Linked DNA regions of Homo sapiens. The protein of the gene in region 1 interacts with the protein of each later gene in a pairwise test. Each region holds a gene or a part of one and is shown on either strand. Other genes may lie near its edges. The genes, in order: METAP2 and PTCHD1.

Region 1 (4,487 bases):
AACCAATCCGTAATCTAAATGGACATTCAATTGGGCAATATAGAATACATGCTGGAAAAACAGTGCCGATTGTGAAAGGAGGGGAGGCAACAAGAATGGAGGTATGTGTGTCACTAACATTTTACTTCCATGGAAGACATTTTTTTCTTCCAAGCAGAAGGTCATGGTAGTTAAATATATGGTTATACTGACCAGAATTAGCTGCTTATCATCCATATTCACCCTGCCAGGAATTGGGCCATTTGAATTTGCAAATTGTGTATAGTCAGCACTAAATCAGTTGTGGAAATTGGGGCTGTGAAAGGGTTGTTTATTCAACATTTAATGAATATTTATTGAGCATTCTCAGGTGCCAGTCTCTTTATAGTAGGCTCTAGGGGTAGAGCTGTGAACATAATTCATAGGGGGAAGCAGAAAGACCAAAAAGTGCTAAGGAGATAAAGCAGGGCAAGGCTAGATAAGGACCGCCAGGGGCTATTTCATGTTGCTGCTTAATCAGGTAGAGACTTCAAGAGATGGTAATTGTAGGCCAGGCTCGGTAGCTCAGGCCTGTTAATCCCAGCACTTTGAGACACCAAGGCAGGCAGATCACCTGAGTGAGGTCAGGAGTTTGAGACCATCCTGGCCAACATGGTGGAACCTTGTATCTACTAAAAATACAAAAATTAGCCAGGCATGGTGGCACGTGCCTGTAGTCCCACCTACTCGGGAGGCTGAGGCAGGAGAATCGCTTGAACCTGGAAAGTGGAGGTTGCAGTGAGCCAAGATCTCACCACTGCACTCCAGCCTGGCAGCAGAGAGAGACTCTGTCTCAAAAAGAGAGAGAGAGAAAGAGAGATGGTAATTGTGATTCGTTCTGAATTTTTCTTCTTTCTCTCCCCTTGACCCTTATTTATTTTTCAGGAAGGAGAAGTATATGCAATTGAAACCTTTGGTAGTACAGGAAAAGGTGTTGTTCATGATGATATGGAATGTTCACATTACATGAAAAATTTTGATGTTGGACATGTGCCAATAAGGTGAGAGACGAGACGATTGATTTTATGTGGCTAATTAGCATCTCTTCTGAGTTAACAGCATTTCTAAAAAATGTGGCATACATACAAAATAGTATATTCATGAATGTAGAGTTCTGTAGCCCAACAATAAGAAAAAAAAATAGCCTGTTAAACATTTTAACTGAGATAAAAATTACACACACACACACACACACACACACACACACACACACACACAAGTGCTCTCTTCAAGTCCGGTTTCTGATAATCATAAATGTCAGAGATTATTTTGCTAGCATTCCTAGGTTTTTGCTTTAATATTTTTCCATTGGTAAACTTCCATTTACAGCGTCTTTCAATTTACATTGAAATTTTTTAACATTTGAAGATGATTGAAATCTGCATTTACATCTTTTATATGCAGGTCTTTGAGCTTGCTGCACACAAAAGGAAATTCACATCATAATACCCTGTAGTAGGTCTCTAGTGGGGAATATAACACACACACACGCACACGCGCGCGCACGTAGACACGTAAACATGATAAGATGGCCTCCAGCTGGTGTCCTATTCAGCTGCCATCTATAATTAGGTATGGGCTATTATACATTCTGGCTTTTGATTGTTGAAAGAGCAACAATAAAAGTTTTTGGACTTCAACTACTAGGACACAGCTAAGGTCTGGGCTTTTCTTAATGAGGGAAATCAGTTCGTAACTCTTTTGCCAACAGTTAATTTTGGATTTTCTCCTCTTAGGCTTCCAAGAACAAAACACTTGTTAAATGTCATCAATGAAAACTTTGGAACCCTTGCCTTCTGCCGCAGATGGCTGGATCGCTTGGGAGAAAGTAAATACTTGATGGCTCTGAAGAATCTGTGTGACTTGGGCATTGTAGATCCATATCCACCATTATGTGACATTAAAGGATCATATACAGCGCAATTTGAACATACCATCCTGTTGCGTCCAACATGTAAAGAAGTTGTCAGCAGAGGAGATGACTATTAAACTTAGTCCAAAGCCACCTCAACACCTTTATTTTCTGAGCTTTGTTGGAAAACATGATACCAGAATTAATTTGCCACATGTTGTCTGTTTTAACAGTGGACCCATGTAATACTTTTATCCATGTTTAAAAAAGAAGGAATTTGGACAAAGGCAAACCGTCTAATGTAATTAACCAACGAAAAAGCTTTCCGGACTTTTAAATGCTAACTGTTTTTCCCCTTCCTGTCTAGGAAAATGCTATAAAGCTCAAATTAGTTAGGAATGACTTATACGTTTTGTTTTGAATACCTAAGAGATACTTTTTGGATATTTATATTGCCATATTCTTACTTGAATGCTTTGAATGACTACATCCAGTTCTGCACCTATACCCTCTGGTGTTGCTTTTTAACCTTCCTGGAATCCATTTTCTAAAAAATAAAGACATTTTCAGATCTGAGAGCTACATCTCAATGTCTGTGGTTATAATTCTGGACAGGATAAATAGCTAAACTTAATGTAGGCAAATGCAGAGACATTTATCTGAAATGTAGACCTCTACACTGAGACTTTTCTGGCATAGTGGCTAAAACAAGATCTACACATGCATAAAAAGGGACAATCACCTTTTCTTCATAAATATACAGCTTTAGGAATATTTCACCATTCTTTGTAGGACATAGTAGTCCTTGTCTTTTTTTCTCCTGACATTGGAAAGATGTGCTAATTGAAACTTGACTTAGTAGGAACATTGTGCCAACTCAAAACCTTGATTTAGTAAAAATCTCAATGTTTAGATCCTTTGTCCAGTGGTGGTGTTTATCAGGGAATGTATTCAGCTTGCTCAGAAAACCAAAAGGGTATTAAAGCCACAAAAGCAAAGAAGAAAAAAAAAAACTTCCCATGTTTGGATCTTGTTCTAGTTAGAAAAATTAAGTTGAAATTCTTGGACTTTTTCATTCATGAGGCAAATGCTGTAATACCTTCCCCTTTGACAGGTTTGGATTCTTAACATTACTAGTGGTATTTCAGGAAGTGACGTTACAGTTACTTTCCTTATAGCGGCTAAGTGTATTAAGTTGAATGTAACGATGGTAATATTAATTTGTTTGAACTGAGGCCCACTACTGATTCTTTGACAAATTGAATTCTTATATTTAAATAATTTTATGGGAATGTTCCATCATAATTTCTAAATCATTTATATATCAAGGTAGCCTTAATTTGTATATGTTTCAGTACAATGAGATTTTATTGCCTCTGGGATGCTGTTTAGTTTGTATTTTGTTGAACGTTTTTATCCTAGGAAGAGAAACCTATGACTTGTGTACCTAGATCATCTGTTACATTAAAAAGCTGCTCTTTCAGCATTAGAGCTATAAATGAATGTTACCTTGTCGGGAAACAATCTAGGTTTTAGCTGTATGAGCTATGTTTATTATGGTGCTAATGTTCAGTAGCCACATTTGACTAATGTCTCCATTCTCTGTGATGCTGTGGCTAGCAGCAGAGCTCGCCAGTTCATGCCTGGACATACTGTCAGGGCTGGGCCCTCCAGCTAGCTCCTTTGGGGTTGAGTCCGTATCTTTTTGATGTGGAAGTATAAAGCAAGTATCTTGATTTCTAAACCCAGCAATTTTAGAATTGACCTTTATGAGTGAAGACTTTTGGAGCTTTTAAAGACCTTGGCAGTCATGATCTCAAACCAATTAGGAGCTCCAAGCTCCCTTCCCAGGTAACTGTTGGGAGCAATGGCATCACTGTATGCCCTTGTAATGGCTGGAAGGGACATGATCTTGTAAGTAGGAAAGCTGTAACTAAAAATTGTATTGTTTGCTTATTAGCCATGTATCTCTTAAAATTTTGTTATGTTTACAACGATGTACCTTATTGGCAACAAGTTATTAGTTTGATGTTTAACAATAGTGCCTTTAGTAAATTATTTTACAACTAAAACATGTTGTTTTTTGTTAGATCAACTTAGCAGAATGTAGACGTCCATGTTGAGATTTAAGATAAATAGTAAGAAATCTAAGTTTCTGTTTATTGTTTAGGTTTTAATTTTATTGTTGGTATTTTGAGACATTTTTCACACTAAAATTTAGTGGAAAGTACTACAGATTTCCCAGACCCCCCCCCAATAATATCCCCCTTTTCCAAGCCTCCCCCCATAGGTGTTTGTTAGTTTTAAGGGATTAAAAAGTAAAGGGCTAAGTCACTTTGTTTTTTTTTTTTTTTTTTTTTTTTTTTTTTTTAGCGGGAGTCTCGCTCTGTCACCCAGGCTGGAGTGCAGTGGCGCGATCTCAGCTCACTGCAGCCGGGTTCAAGCTATTCTCCTGCCTCAGCCTCCTGAGTAGCTGGACTATAGATGCATGCTACCACGCCTGGCTAATTTTTTTTTTTTTTGTATTTTTAGTAGAGATGGGGTTTCACTGTGTTAGCCAGGATGGTCTTGATCTCCTGACCTTGTGATCTGCCCGCCTCGGCCTTCCAAAGTGCTG
Region 2 (7,299 bases), on another chromosome or scaffold:
GAGACGAATGTAGTAATTTTATTTCCATATATGAAATTTGGCACTGCCCAGGCATGCTATAAACAGCTTCATTGACTCATGATATTAAATGTTTTCACACTGAAACTGAAAGATCATCCATCAATCAGCAAGCCATCCCATTTCCTCCTTCTTAGCCATTCCTTACTTTGAGGAACTCAGGATGAGGAAATCCTGCTAGTGTGGAGAGGTTTAAAATGTGAGTAGCACCCAGCGGCATCTCTCAGCTGCTGTGTTGTGGCTATGTATACTGGGACAGGCGCGAAAATCTGGGACTGAAGAAAAATCTGACTTACAAAATCCAGAAGTATTATACAAAGTAGATCAATTTGCCTACGATTATTCATTGAAAACCAAACAACAACAAAAAAATCACCCAGACTGTCTCCAATAGCAAAACCACTAAATACATTTAAAATATTATTCACTTTATGAGCAACTTTCCAGAAGTATATCTACTGGGTAAAGAAAGGTTAACTCTCAACTATTTGTTAGTAGATTCTGTCTTACCGGATTATAAACAACCCTGAAGGCTTTGGTCAGGCCCCAGAAAGTTCTGGGTGACAGAATTAATCTCTGAGGGTGCTTGATAGTCACCCTCAGTGATGGGAGGATTAGCCAGTTGAATTTTTTTTTCCGCCATTAGTGTTATTTATCATGTGTGCTTCTTTTTCCCTTCATTTGCTCCAAAGTCTGAGAGTTAACAACACATTCAGATATAAAAATTCTTTTGAGAATAAGAAAAATTATTAGCCTAAATTCTTTAGTATTTTATTTTATTAGATGACAACCCCAAAGTGTACTGCAAATAAAATTAATAAAAGCAGTTTTCTTTTTAAAATCACACTCCCGGCCCAAATTTTGCCTCAACATTAGTGAAGAGCCCTGCTGGCCTGACAAAAACCTCGAGCTGCCTCAGAGTATTCACTCACGAATAATTAGAACTTGGCGCTCCCTTCAATCTCTCTCTCTCTCTTTCTCTTTATGTGTGTGTGTATGTGTTTTTACATACTGATATGCATTTGTTCTTATGCATGTAACAATACAGACATGCAGGGTAACAAAAATAGAAACAAACATCTTGAATATGCTTTTAAAGGACAAGAGAATGCTTTAGAAGCATTTTTATCTTCAAAATCTGATAGAATCAGTATGTGTTTAACAGTTCCCGTTGGCAACTCCTCAGTCCTGCACTGTGACTGTAAAAGAAGGAATCCCCTGGGATGTTGTATCATCCAGGGTAATCCTTGGAATGTGAGGATGTCAGGATGTGGAGGTTCCTGATATCCTCACTGTGATATATAGTCTTTTTACCCCAAGGTCTCAGGCTGCGACCTGGCCCTCAAATGATGAGTCATGACTCCCAATAACACCACAGGGTCCCTACTGACCAAAATCAAAATCTGTATTTAGGTAGCTCTGCCCTGGCCCCACCCCATGAGTTCTGTCACCAGGGAGTCCTTGTGAACAGACTTGGGACTTTGGAGATGGGAAATTGTTATTTGCCAAAGTCATGCTTTGTGCCAATGACATAGGCCCACTGGTCAGATTTAACAGAGAAGCTTATAGAACTCCTACTTTGTAGAGAAGTTTTTAAAACTAGAGTGCAAAGCAAACAGCAGTACTTTTGCTTTTAAAACACCTTTTTAAAAAGTAGGAAACAACAGTCAGACCTCTGAAAAGTATCTTCAGTCCACATGCAATATCTGTTTGCCTACGTCTGTAAGATTTGGCGTCAGAGTTCCGCTTGCTGAACTACAGCCCCAAAATTAGGAGAGTGGGTTGTGCGTGGTGGCTCATGCCTGTATAGAATCCCAGCACTTTGGGAGGCCGAGGCAGGCAGATCACCTGAGGTCAAGAGTTCAAGACCAGCCTGGCCAATACGGTGAAACCCCATCTCTACTAAAACTACAAAAATTACCTGGGCGTGGTGGCATGTGCCTGTAATCCCAGCTACCCAGGAGGCTGAGGCAGGGGAATCGCTGGAACCCGGGAGGCCGAGGCTGCAGCGAGCAGAGATTGTGCCACTGCACTCCAGCCTGGGAGACAGAGTGAGACTCCGTCTCGAAAAAAAAAAAAAGCAATGAATGATGATGATGCTAAAGGAGGTAGCCATCCACTGAAAGAGGAAAGTGGAGAGGAACAGAACCTACCAAAATCTATCTTCTCTGCCTCTCCTTGACTCCAGGTGGCCCAGTTTCTGGAGTGCTAGTAAAAGATAAGGTCAGACCTGACTGAAGGAAAAACTGAAGAAATTCGTCTCTGTGAAATTCTCCTACCTGCCATTTCCTCTTTATTCCATTCCCATGTCCATTCTCTGTCCCATTCCCCAGACCTAAGGGAAGCTGCTTCAGTAGACCACTGTCCCAGAGGAGTTTACATTTAAAAGGATACCCTTGAAAGTTCCAAGGGGAACTCGGATATAATTCCGGCATTCTGGAGGGCAGGATGGTCCTCGTGTCCTAGGGCTTTTGGAATGTGTCTCCCCTTGAATCCAGGCCAGAACACAAGAGTCCTCACCGATGGCCTTTCCTATAGGATAACAGGCCGACCTCTTCAGCAAAAATACCCAGCTATGAGCCAGGACAGCTGCCAGCCAGGCACTCCAGGCTGTTAATCCTTAAGAGGTGACCACAGCTATGTTAGCACTTGTCCCTCCCTTGACTGACAAACCTTCAGGAAGGAGGCCCAGTTATGGTATCAGCAATTGTCCCAGAAATCCAAAGGGCTCTTGTAAGATGCTGTAGAACTCCAGTTTGGGGATTCGGGTGTAGCAATCTGCTCGAGAGGTGTGGCTTGAGAAAGGAATCTGACCTATCAGGAATGGTGGTCGGGGCCTTTGGAGGCAAAGTCAGGCACAACTAGCAACAAATGCTGAGTGATCGGTTAGAACAAATTCTTTCTCAGGGCCTCTTCTGATTTCTGTGAGTGGCTGCATGTACACACCTGTAGCAAGAAGGAAGAACTAAGGAAAGGCATCGTTTCCAAAAGCCCCTCAGAAGAAAATTAGAATTCTCTTTGGAGCTGCCCCCAAACCAAGAACATATGCAAAAAGAGCCAGGACTCAAAATAAAAGATCAAACTATAGAAGGACAAGGCATTTAAAATGCAGCAACAGAACTCAAGAGAGAAGCTAACAGCCTACTTCCACCTTTCCTTGATTTTGATTACTTTCATTCTTGACCCTGGAGCCTCAGTCTTGTCACCTAATATCTCTGTTAATTCAAATTCCTTTTCTCAATTAGCTTCTAAGATTATTCAACAGCAAGGTATGAAATTGATTCTTATTGTATTTTCCAAAAATCAGGGTCAGATAATGTCATTATAAAACATCACACTGATTTTTAAAAGAACTGCAAAACAGATTTAAGTTCTATTATATGACTAATTCTAATTCCGCTATATGCTTTATTTTCTTGCCATATTTAATAACTCAGTACTAAAACCCTGTTTAAATTTTTTGTTTCTGGCAAGTAAATATCATTAAAAAATTATTTGCCATTTATAGTGATCCCCTGAAGTGTGCTTTGCCCACCAAAGCTTACTTGCTCTACATGGCCCCAGGAAAAAAAAAAAAAAAACAAAAAAAACAATATTATTTCTTCAGGGACAGTGCCTCAGAAGTATTCTCTTTTTACCCTCATTGTCAAGAGAATGGTTACTTAATTAAAGGTCAGTGGGTCCATCTTGAAAATATACTAGAAACAGATTTAATCATGTTCCCTCTCCAGACTAGATGTTAATACCTAAGCATAATTAACAACAGGATGCCAGTCAATGAGTGTACTTTTTACTTCATATCTGGGGAGTTTAGGTGCCTTCAATTTAATAGGGGCCTCGGTGCTAGTTAACAAATTGACAGTCTTGACCTGACTTCTAAAAGTGGCTGTAAAACGATGCCTAGTCAATTAAGATAAATGCCAAATTCCTCTGAGGAAACAGGCCTAAATCATTACTTTGAAATGGGCATTTCAGGTATGAGGCCAGGACTTCACAATAAGGATATAAATACTAGCTTGGGCATGAGGGAAGATGTACACCTAGCTATTGTACACACAAGATAACAGTGACTCACTTTATTCAGCATTATGCTTGGCTGGAGATTTTAAATTCCTTTTTAAATACAAGACTATTGTACCACAGGGTAAAGATTTTATTATCCTCAATAATGGGATTGAATATGCCAAGGCGATGGAAGCAGGAAATTAGATCTGCTGATCCCCATTGCCAAGACAGGAGTTATCGAAATCCACAACGGGTCACTTTGGTGAGCCTTCCAATGTTGCAGTGGCCTGGAAACACAGGGACTCGAAGTAGGGAAATGTCTGGCTCCAACTACGAGAGGTGGTAGAAGTCATGCTAGATCAGGTTCCAGGCAGCAGAATGGAGTTTAGAACATGAGCATTTACTGTACCTCTGCTATTTCAGTATTGCTGAAATACTAAACCAGGAGGCGAAGGCACTAAGCAGTTACGCAGCGGGGTTACTGATCTGGCTCTTTCCCACAGATGCCACTATCAAATAGCGCGGAGAAGCTAGCAGAGTCGCTGCTGACGTATTATATCACTGCTTGATAAGTCATGTATGAATAACCAAATTGGTCAAACAGATCCCTGAAGACAAATTGCAAGTCATAAACCTTCAACCTGAATCCTAATTTTTATCAATAACCAGGAGAGTTCATATTTATCTTATTTTTTCTGTATTTTCTTCACTGAAACTTCTTCACTCCTACTTATTTTGCTTCCCTCTTTCTAAGATTTATTGCTTCCTGCCCTGATATTTGGGGAGGGAAAACAGAGGGGGCTGTGATTTAGTTTCCTGTCAAGACTCAAATGAAATACACTGCCTCTTTATCACTAAAACCCTCTAGTTGGCAAATTTTAAATGAGGTGACAGGACATTAACTCAGAACCCTCTGCCCACTATCTTCCTCTGCACTGACCCCTAGCCAGACTTGTGGGGACGGAAAGCAAAATGATGAGTGTCCAGACATCTTCTCTTCTCTGGAGCGTTCCACCAACCAAACTGCACCAATAACTCTAAGCTATTAATGGGAAAAATCCCCAAGAGACATATGCACAAGTCTAATCAGCTTTTATTCTTTTTAGAGTCAGGGTCTTGCCCTGTTGCCCAGGCTGGAGTGCAGTGGCACAATCATGGCTCACTGCAGCCTCCAACTCCGAGGCTCAAGAGATCCACCTGCCTTAGCCTCCCAAGTAGCTGGGACTACAGATATGAGCCACTATTCCTGGCTAAGTTGTTTCATTTTCTTTCTTTTTTTTTCTTTCTTTTTTCTTTCTTTCTTTCTTTTTTTTTTTTTTTTTGAGAGATGAGGTCTCGCTACATTGCCCAGGCTGGTATCAAACTCCTGGTCTTAAGTCATCTTCCTTCCTCAGTCTCCCAAGTTGCTAGGATTACAGGCATGAGCCACCATGACTGGCTCTACTCAGCTTTCTATAGGCAAAAGTTCATCTAAGTGCTGTTTGTTTGGTGGAACACTCCAAAGAAGAGAACTTTCTTAAGCCAGAGGGAATATGAAGATCTTTGCTTCTCTAGCTGCCCTTTCGTTATCCATTAACATTTACGATTCATAAAAACATGGGTCTATCTCCGCATAGGAGAAATCATTGGCATTTACATACCCGTCACCACTAGGGTTGATTACGTTTCCTTTGACCCAGTAGTCCCTCATAATCAAGTTGATTTCCCTCTTAAGAGATTAGTTCTTTAAACTTCTGCTCTGGTCTTTTTCTGCCCTCTTAGGTCATGGATTATATGGGACTTTTGAAATGTTATCCTCCTGGAGGAAAACTAGAGAAGACCAACATGTTAAAGAGAGAACTGCAGCAGTCTATGCAGACTCCATGCTCTCCTTTTCTCTCACCACTGCCATGTACCTGGTCACCTTTGGCATAGGGGCCAGCCCTTTCACGAACATTGAGGCAGCCAGGATTTTCTGCTGCAATTCCTGTATTGCAATCTTCTTCAACTACCTCTATGTACTCTCGTTTTATGGTTCCAGCCTAGTGTTCACTGGCTACATAGAAAACAATTACCAGCATAGTATCTTCTGTAGAAAAGTCCCAAAGCCTGAGGCATTGCAGGAGAAGCCGGCATGGTACAGGTTTCTCCTGACGGCCAGATTCAGTGAGGACACAGCTGAAGGCGAGGAAGCGAACACTTACGAGAGTCACCTATTGGTATGTTTCCTCAAACGCTATTACTGTGACTGGATAACCAACACCTATGTCAAGCCTTTTGTAGTTCTCTTTTACCTTATTTATATTTCCTTTGCCTTAATGGGCTATCTGCAGGTCAGTGAAGGGTCAGACCTTAGTAACATTGTAGCAACCGCGACACAAACCATTGAGTACACTACTGCCCAGCAAAAGTACTTCAGCAACTACAGTCCTGTGATTGGGTTTTACATATATGAGTCTATAGAATACTGGAACACTAGTGTCCAAGAAGATGTTCTAGAATACACCAAGGGGTTTGTGCGGATATCCTGGTTTGAGAGCTATTTAAATTACCTTCGGAAACTCAATGTATCCACTGGCTTGCCTAAGAAAAATTTCACAGACATGTTGAGGAATTCCTTTCTGAAAGCCCCTCAATTTTCACATTTTCAAGAGGACATCATCTTCTCTAAAAAATACAATGATGAGGTCGATGTAGTGGCCTCCAGAATGTTTTTGGTGGCCAAGACCATGGAAACAAACAGAGAAGAACTCTATGATCTCTTGGAAACCCTGAGGAGACTTTCTGTCACCTCCAAGGTGAAGTTCATCGTCTTCAATCCGTCCTTTGTATACATGGATCGATATGCCTCCTCTCTGGGAGCCCCCCTGCACAACTCCTGCATCAGTGCTTTGTTCCTGCTCTTCTTCTCGGCATTCCTGGTGGCAGATTCACTGATTAACGTCTGGATCACTCTCACAGTTGTGTCCGTGGAGTTTGGAGTGATAGGTTTCATGACATTATGGAAAGTAGAACTGGACTGCATTTCTGTGCTATGCTTAATTTATGGAATTAATTACACAATTGACAATTGTGCTCCAATGTTATCCACATTTGTTCTGGGCAAGGATTTCACAAGAACTAAATGGGTAAAAAATGCCCTGGAAGTGCATGGGGTAGCTATTTTACAGAGTTACCTCTGCTATATTGTTGGTCTGATTCCTCTTGCAGCTGTGCCTTCAAATCTGACCTGTACACTGTTCAGGTGCTTGTTTTTAATAGCATTTGTCACCTTCTTTCACTGCTTTGCCATTTTAC

The links.
Region 2: the proteins of METAP2 (region 1) and PTCHD1 interact in a two-hybrid assay, tested with the Homo sapiens proteins (one study listed by BioGRID and IntAct).

What each region holds. Positions count from the first base shown.
Region 1 is NC_000012.12:95,511,898-95,516,384, forward strand, and holds the end of METAP2 (methionine aminopeptidase 2), read left to right. Parts: coding exon 1-101; intron 102-903; coding exon 904-1,019; intron 1,020-1,754; coding exon 1,755-2,007; 3' UTR 2,008-3,942; downstream 3,943-4,487. UniProt on the Homo sapiens protein: Cotranslationally removes the N-terminal methionine from nascent proteins. The N-terminal methionine is often cleaved when the second residue in the primary sequence is small and uncharged (Met-Ala-, Cys, Gly, Pro, Ser, Thr, or Val).
Region 2 is NC_000023.11:23,386,747-23,394,045, forward strand, and holds part of PTCHD1 (patched domain-containing protein 1), read left to right. Parts: intron 1-5,784; coding exon 5,785-7,299. UniProt on the Homo sapiens protein: Required for the development and function of the thalamic reticular nucleus (TRN), a part of the thalamus that is critical for thalamocortical transmission, generation of sleep rhythms, sensorimotor processing and attention. Can bind cholesterol in vitro.